Linked DNA regions of Homo sapiens. The protein of the gene in region 1 interacts with the protein of each later gene in a pairwise test. Each region holds a gene or a part of one and is shown in the gene's direction. Other genes may lie near its edges.

Evidence for each region. Proteins that work in one complex are often made in the same cells at the same time.
Region 2: the proteins of TNS4 (region 1) and RPAIN interact in a two-hybrid assay, tested with the Homo sapiens proteins (one large-scale study listed by BioGRID and IntAct).

The regions. Positions count from the first base shown.
Region 1 is NC_000017.11:40,484,615-40,488,400, reverse strand, and holds part of TNS4 (tensin-4 precursor), read left to right. Parts: intron 1-940; coding exon 941-1,365; intron 1,366-3,393; coding exon 3,394-3,480; intron 3,481-3,786. UniProt on the Homo sapiens protein: Promotes EGF-induced cell migration by displacing tensin TNS3 from the cytoplasmic tail of integrin ITGB1 which results in dissociation of TNS3 from focal adhesions, disassembly of actin stress fibers and initiation of cell migration.
Region 2 is NC_000017.11:5,422,962-5,426,747, forward strand, and holds part of RPAIN (RPA-interacting protein), read left to right. Parts: intron 1-3,009; coding exon 3,010-3,121; intron 3,122-3,175; coding exon of another isoform or gene 3,176-3,246; exon of another isoform or gene 3,247-3,268; intron 3,269-3,274; coding exon 3,275-3,338; intron 3,339-3,786. UniProt on the Homo sapiens protein: Mediates the import of RPA complex into the nucleus, possibly via some interaction with importin beta.

The DNA.
Region 1 (3,786 bases):
CCTTTCAGATCTCAAGCTGTCCTCAAGCATTTAGAATACAATTCAATATAAAAAGTCTTGACTTATAGCTACCTTTTGGTAAAAGAGCCGTTGCCTTAATGAGGCTCATCTATATCCTTTCCAGCCCTCATACAACCCATCTCAAGGAAGGTTTTTTTAAACCCCAAAACACAGGGCTATAAATAGAATTGGGGGGCCTGAGATGAACTATTTAGGAATAAAAAGGTTCCTTCCTCTGTTGCTGGCAAAACCTAGCAAAGGAGTGAGGCAGCCCTGCCTGGGAATCACAATCATCCCAGCTCAGTTCTCTATAGACCTCACAGCAGAACTGCAGGCACATGCGCACCCATTCTGCCCCAGGAAGACCGAACCACAGGACTCTGCTTCCCACTCCACCTCCAAAGCCACTGGCCAAGGCAGTCCCTGGCACAGAGGCTGGGGATTCCACAGCCATGCCCACTGGCACAGGCCCCTGAGCTCAGGAAGAAGTCTGGCTGGATGTGAAGCTGGCCTTCTCCTGCAGCTGGGGAGTTCCCTCTGCATCAGCCACGGTGTGGTCCAGCGTAGGTTCAGCCCATCTGCAGGGCTCCTGGGAGTCATGGGGGCCTGAAGGGATCCTGATCCGACAGCTCAGTCAGAACGGCCTGGCTGGGAAGGCAGACGGAATGTGGGCCAGCCTATGCCCAAAGCCTGCAGGGGTCAGCTCATTGGCTACTTTAAGTGACCAAAGACCCTACCATCCAAGGACATTTCTGTATCCTTACCATCCCTTGAGGATTAGGTGGGCATGCACTTTGCTGTGGGCTGTAGGGGGTGGGGTATGCAGTGTTCTATTTGGCCTTTAAAGCCATGGGAACCCAGATCACCAGATCCGGAGCCTGACTCTAGCCCCTGAGCCACCTGTTGCCCTAACACCCTGTCTGACTCTCTCCCGCTGCAGCAGCCAGTCCCTCCTGCACTCCAGCAACTCCAGCCATCAGTCATCTTCCAGATCCTTGGAAAGTCCAGCCAACTCTTCCTCCAGCCTCCACAGCCTTGGCTCAGTGTCCCTGTGTACAAGACCCAGTGACTTCCAGGCTCCCAGAAACCCCACCCTAACCATGGGCCAACCCAGAACACCCCACTCTCCACCACTGGCCAAAGAACATGCCAGCAGCTGCCCCCCATCCATCACCAACTCCATGGTGGACATACCCATTGTGCTGATCAACGGCTGCCCAGAACCAGGGTCTTCTCCACCCCAGCGGACCCCAGGACACCAGAACTCCGTTCAACCTGGAGCTGCTTCTCCCAGCAACCCCTGTCCAGCCACCAGGAGCAACAGCCAGACCCTGTCAGATGCCCCCTTTACCACATGCCCAGAGGGTACGTCGTAAACCAATATTTGAAGCAATGTAAGATTTGGGGAATAGACAAAGTGCCAGTGGGTTTCTGCAACAGCCAGTCAACACATTTATTGAGCAACTATTGTGTGTCTGGCACTATGCCAGGTAGTGAGGACACACAGAGGGAAACAGTTTAGAAAGAGACAAAAACAAATCATCACGGTAGGGTAGGATAAACGCGGAGGTAAAGAGATATTCTCAATCATATTGGCCAAAGCTGAAGGAATGATTCTTTCAGTCTGGAGAACAGAGGAAGCGACATCCGAGCTGGATCTGGGAAATGGATCAGAAGTTTGTGGCCAGAGAAGGAGAGGAAAGGCATTCCCAGCAGAGAAAGCAGGGGGTCCACAGTCATGAAGGTGTGGAAGCGCATGGCATGTTCAGGAAATGCCGGAATGTTGGGTGCAGGTTCAAGTCATTGAGAGTAATTTGAAACCAGATTGTGAAAGGCCTTAAATGCCAAGCTAAAAAAAAAAAAAAAAATGGAATTTGCCTTTTAAGCAATAGGGTACCATCAGAGAGCCTCCTCACACAGGAGAGTGATGGGGTCAGAGGTGCTCGCTCAATGGATCACCCTGGCAGCTCAACGGATAGCAGGGTCCTGAACCGGGATAGGGCAGTGGGAGTGGAGGAGAGAGGACAGAACCAGGCGACCCTCAGGATGTGCTTGATGACTAACTCAAGGAGAGCAAGAGGGCGAGTCAGTTCTGACTCTGACGTTCGCAGATGATGAGAACACAGAGGGGGTGGATGGGGTAATAGAGACAATGCATTCCAGTTCAGACAGCCGAAAACCACAAAACAGCAAACACCCTCCTTCCCGGAGTCTGAGATCACAGGCGTCCAAGAAGAACAAACCCAAGCAGTAAACCCAGAAGCTAAGCTCTAGCACCCTGTGGATGCCTCTCCCATGAGCAGAGTCCCCTGCCAACCCCCTGTTCCCCCTCCCTCGGCCATCGGGGGGCTTCTCAGCCCCCACTTGGCCATGACGCTCACAGGCATCAAGGCGACTCCAGAGGGGGTGGGGGTGGAATGTTTACTATAGCCCACTGCTCACTCCCACTCACGAAGCCATGTGGAGGCAAGCAGGAGAAAATGACACTTCTGGCGTGCCTTTGCATCTGCCCTGATCGCTTTCCTAGGACAAATCATTTGCAGATTTTAGTACTTTTTTTGAATGAGTTACTTGAGAGTAAGTGGTCACAACACTCCTTTTCAAGCCGCCAAGGTTGACAGCTACTGCTCTCTGCCTTAGGGACCCAGGGAAATGGCCATTTTGGCATCCCAAAGCGCACATTTACTTAGCCTAGTGATATTCCCATCCTGCTTTGGTCCCATAATATCACCAACTATACCCCCAGATCTTATCAAATTCTGCAAAATATTCCTAAAACAAAATTCATTTTAATTCCATAGACTACTAGAACATTAAAGACCCTCAGAAGCTGTTTAGTCCACTTGGTCCCCTCTGAGCTTCAGTTATCCCATATCAGAGTCAAGATCCAGGCTCCCGCCTCCCAGGGGCATGTTTTTCTGCCCAGATCTGCTATTTTCCTCTCCTTCACGTTTTCTGCCATTTTCTTTTCCAAGCTGAATATTCCCGTAAGGAATTCTTAGGATTATGAAGACGAAGGAGAATGTAATATCAAACATGATGCATTTGAGAATTCCTTGTTTATCTCTTATTTCAGTCCTCACCAGGGGACTCAACAGTAGATTTAAGAAACCATTTCTCCTTAAACTGAGGTTGTATCTATTCATTCCTTATTCATTACCAAGGATACAAGGGCACTTCTGAGTTCTAGATGCACCAAACCCTGGCATCCTTCTGTTTGATTTTCCCTCATCGTAGGCAGTTTGGAGATACAATGGGGTTAGGGTCTGGGATGGTGGTTGAATGAAACCTTGGGGCAATAGAGTAGGGAAGGGTCTCCAGCCTTCTCTGGTGAACATCCCTCAGCTCCCGTCTGTCCAGCCTACAGGGTCCCCCTTCTCTGTCTGTCTCCAGGTCCCGCCAGGGACATGCAGCCCACCATGAAGTTCGTGATGGACACATCTAAATACTGGTTTAAGCCAAACATCACCCGAGAGCAAGGTAAAAGGAAGCACGAGTGACCCCAGAATAGGGTCTGGGTCTTGCACTTTGCATCAGGCAGGGCCCTGGGTTACAGTTAAGGAATGGCAAATAGTGGGTCCTGGGAAGCGGGGGAGGGGGATGTCCTGCTGACCTCATGACCTCCCGAGGAAGTAGGAACCACAGCAAGAATGGTGGAGATTTGACAGTACAAAGGACTTCCTGGGGACAAAAGGTGACTCTGTAACATCTGCTCTGTGAAGACCCTACGGGGCTGGGGACAGGGTGTCCAGGTGGGGCGGTGTCCATCTCTGACTCAAGGATTGT
Region 2 (3,786 bases), about 35 Mb from region 1:
GTACTCTGACATCTTGGCTGTCTAGCTTCTCAATAATAAGGGTCTCCAGGGTGCTAGACCTTGTGCTAAGAACTTCTCATTTAATGATGCTGTTTTCTCCATGTGACTGCCCTGTAAGATAGTAGTATTAGAACAGAAGGTGGTTGGTGTTCTCGTGCAGGTCATACAGCTAGTAAGTGGAGGAGATGGGAAGCAAAATCAGTTGTATGAATCCAGTTCCCATGTTTCTTCTACCATCCTGCCTCTCTATTAATGGGTTAATAGTTCACTGAGGGTGGTGGCTTATGCCTGTAATCCCAGCATTTTGAGAGGCTGAGGCAGGAGTATTGCTTGAGGCCAGTTCAAGACCAGCATGGGCAACATAACAAGATCCTGTCTCTACAGAAGTAAAAAAAAAAAAAAAAAAATTATCTGGGTGTGGTAGCAAATACTTGTAGCCTCCCTCAGCCAGAAGGCTTAGGCAGGAGGATCACTTGAACCCAAGAGTTTAAGGTTACAGTGAGCTATAATTTTACCACCTCACTCCAGCCTGGCTGACAGAGGGAGACCCTGTCACTTTAAAAAATAAAATAAAAAAAAGTAAACCTGCCATTTTACAGGATACAGTGATAGTGCATGGTCTGATCCCTTGCCCTATTCATTTTAAGTGCCACATTCTCTATTAACTCCCCAGGGCCTGTGAGCATCCACTCCTTGAGGGAGGTGTCCATAGCATGGTGTAGAGAGCATAATTTTGTACCTTATATAGTTAAGTCATTTATTCCATGTAGCCCTGATTTGATTAGGCCTTGTTTGGTTTTTGTTTTTGTTTTTTTTGAGACAGGGTCTCTGCCCAGGCTGGAATGCAGTGGCGTGATCACGGCCCACTGCAGCCTTGACCTCCTGGGCTTAAGCGATCTTCCCACCTCAGCCTTCTGAATAGCTGGGATCATAGGCGTGTGCCACCACCCCTGGCTAATTTTTTTTTATTAATTTTTTTTTTTTAGCTAAAGATGATAAAAACAAGACAAAAAATTATTTTATTTATGTATTTTTTTTTTTTTTGAGATAGGTTCTTGCTCTGTTGCCCAGGCTGGAGTGCAGTGATGTAATCATGGCTCACTGTGGCTTCATCCTCCTAGGCTCAACCAATCCTCTCATCTCAGCCTCCCGAGTAGCTGGGACCGCAAGTGTGCACCACCATACCGAGCTAATTTTTTTATTTTTTTGTAGAGACAGGGTCTCACTGTGTTGCCCAGGCTGGTCTCGAACTCCTCCCTGGTCTCAAGTGATCCCCCCACCTCAGCCTCCTAAAGTTTTGAGATTACAGGCATGAGCCAAAATGCCTAGCCTAATTTTTTAAATTTTTTTGTAGAGGCAGGGTCTCACTATGTTGCCTAGGCTGGTCTCAAACAGCTGGACTCAAACCATCCTCCTACTTCAGCCTCCCAAAGTGTTGGGATTACAGACATGAGGCATGGCCCCCAGCCTTAGGCTTCATTTTTATGACCTATAAAATGGAGAGAATACCCTATAAATTTGTTGTAAGGCTTAAATAACGTGTGTAGAAGACTTAGTGCATTGTCTGGCATATAGAGAGCTTTCAATAATCAACAGCTATTATTATGGTGAGGCAAGAGCACAAGCTCTTGAGTCATACCTCTAACATTCACTTGGCTTTACTACTTTAATTTGTGTGGCACCGACCAAAGCACTTAATTTCCCCGTGCCTCAGTTTCTTCACCTTTGAAATAAGGATAATAATAGTGAAGAAGTTAATATATGTAAGGAATTTAAAATAGCATTTGACACATAAGTGCCATGCAAGTGTTAGTTGTTAATGACTGTTGCTGTCGACTCTGGTTAGACTGTAAATTCCTTAAGTTATCATCTTTTTTTATTGATTTTCCCTTCCCCCACCTACAAAACCTATCTTAGTGGTGAAACATAAGCCTGACCAAATGTTTTATTTTGGGGCATACTTAACTAATAAGTCTGAAGTGACAAGGATTTACTGTGTTGTGCTGTACTCAGCCATAAGGAACATTCTAAAGCAGAAGTTGGCAGACTTTTTGTGAAGAGCCAGATAGCAAATACTTTAGACTTCACAGACCATGTGGTCTCTGGCACAATTTCTCAGCTCTGCAGTTCTAGTGGAAAAGCAGTTATAGACACTACATAAACAAATAAGCGTGACTGTAGTTTTTTGACCCCTTCCCTAATGTCTAGACTGTGAGCTCAACAATGACAGTCTTTTTCATCTTTGTGCCCCTGTGACTAGCAGATACTAGGTACTGTTGTATGTTTGCTGAATGAATGAGCACACAGATTCTGAACAACACAGATTCCAAGTATGTGGAATCAGCAGGGTCGTCCTGGCATCAGAAATCAGTTCTCTCTTTTTTTTTTTTTTGACACAGAGTCTCGCTCTGTCACTCAGGCTGGAGTGCAGTGGCGCAATCTCGGATCACTGCAACCTCCGCCTCCTGGGTTCAAGTGATTCTTCTGCCTCAGCCTCCCGAGTAGCTGGGATTATAGACGTGCGCCACATGCCTGGCTAATTTTTTGTGTTTGTTAGTAGAGATGGGTTTCACCATGTTGGCCAGGCTGGTTTCGAACTCCTGACCTCGAGTGATCTGCCTGCCTCAGCCTCCCAAAGTGTTGGGATTACAGGTGTGAGTCACCGTGCCCGGCCAGCAATCAGTTCTCTTTGTCAACTTTATTTAGTTGCCTGTGGGACCCTGACATTCTGTATCTGTGCTCCTATGGCCTCTGGAGATGTGTGTGAAAATTGTCTCCTCGGCCCTTAGCCTACTTCACCTCTTGTGCTCACAAAAAGGGGACAGAGAGGAGGGAGAGGAATCCAGCAAGATGAAGCCAGCCTGAGAGAGCATAAAAACCAGTCATTGGTATTGTGGTCTTGCCCAAATCTTTCCCTCGTGTGAAGGAAGCCTTTGACAGTGAAGTTTAGAATTAAATACAGGGCCAGCTGAAGCATGGTGAAGCCCTCCAACTGCCTTTGCCTTGCAGAGCAGTCCATCATCAGCGAGTATGAGAAGAGCTTGCAGTTTGATGAAAAGTGTCTCAGCATCATGCTGGCTGAGTGGGAGGCAAACCCACTCATCTGTCCTGTATGTACAAAGTAAGAGTTTTTAAAACCTTTTCAGCATTATTCGTTCCCATTCCCCACTCCAAGGTGAGTGGAATCTCCCCCCAGATTTGTTGCCTGAAATTCAAGGTTTGGAGATCCAGGTCTGGTGGCCATGATGCTCTGGGATCCTAATTCTGCTTCTAGGTACAACCTGAGAATCACAAGCGGTGTGGTGGTGTGTCAGTGTGGCCTGTCCATCCCATCTCATGTGAGTGTTCCACACACAGATTTCATGATACTTCTTCCCACATGGATCTACTTTCTTGAAGATCCTCCAGTGCTGACTTGGAGCCCATTGTGCATATTTCTTCCCAGTTTTATGTTCAGTGGTGTCACATTGGTAGCTTCAAATCAGCCATGGTGAGAATATCTATGGCATGAAAATTGGCAAACAGTACACATCAGAGCCTTTAGGGCCCTGGAGAGCCATCACCGCTTAACGTTTTTATGGAGACCTCAGCTTGGGATTGGTAACGCCTGTATCTGACGTTTCATAAAAATTTTCTATATATGAAGACATACCTAATTCAGAATTTAAGCTTCAGTAATTTTTTTTTTTTTTTTTTTGAGACGGAGTCTCACTCTGTTGCCCAGGCTGGAGTACAGTGGCGTGATTTAGGCTCACTGCAACCTCTGCCTTGCGGGTTCAAGTCATT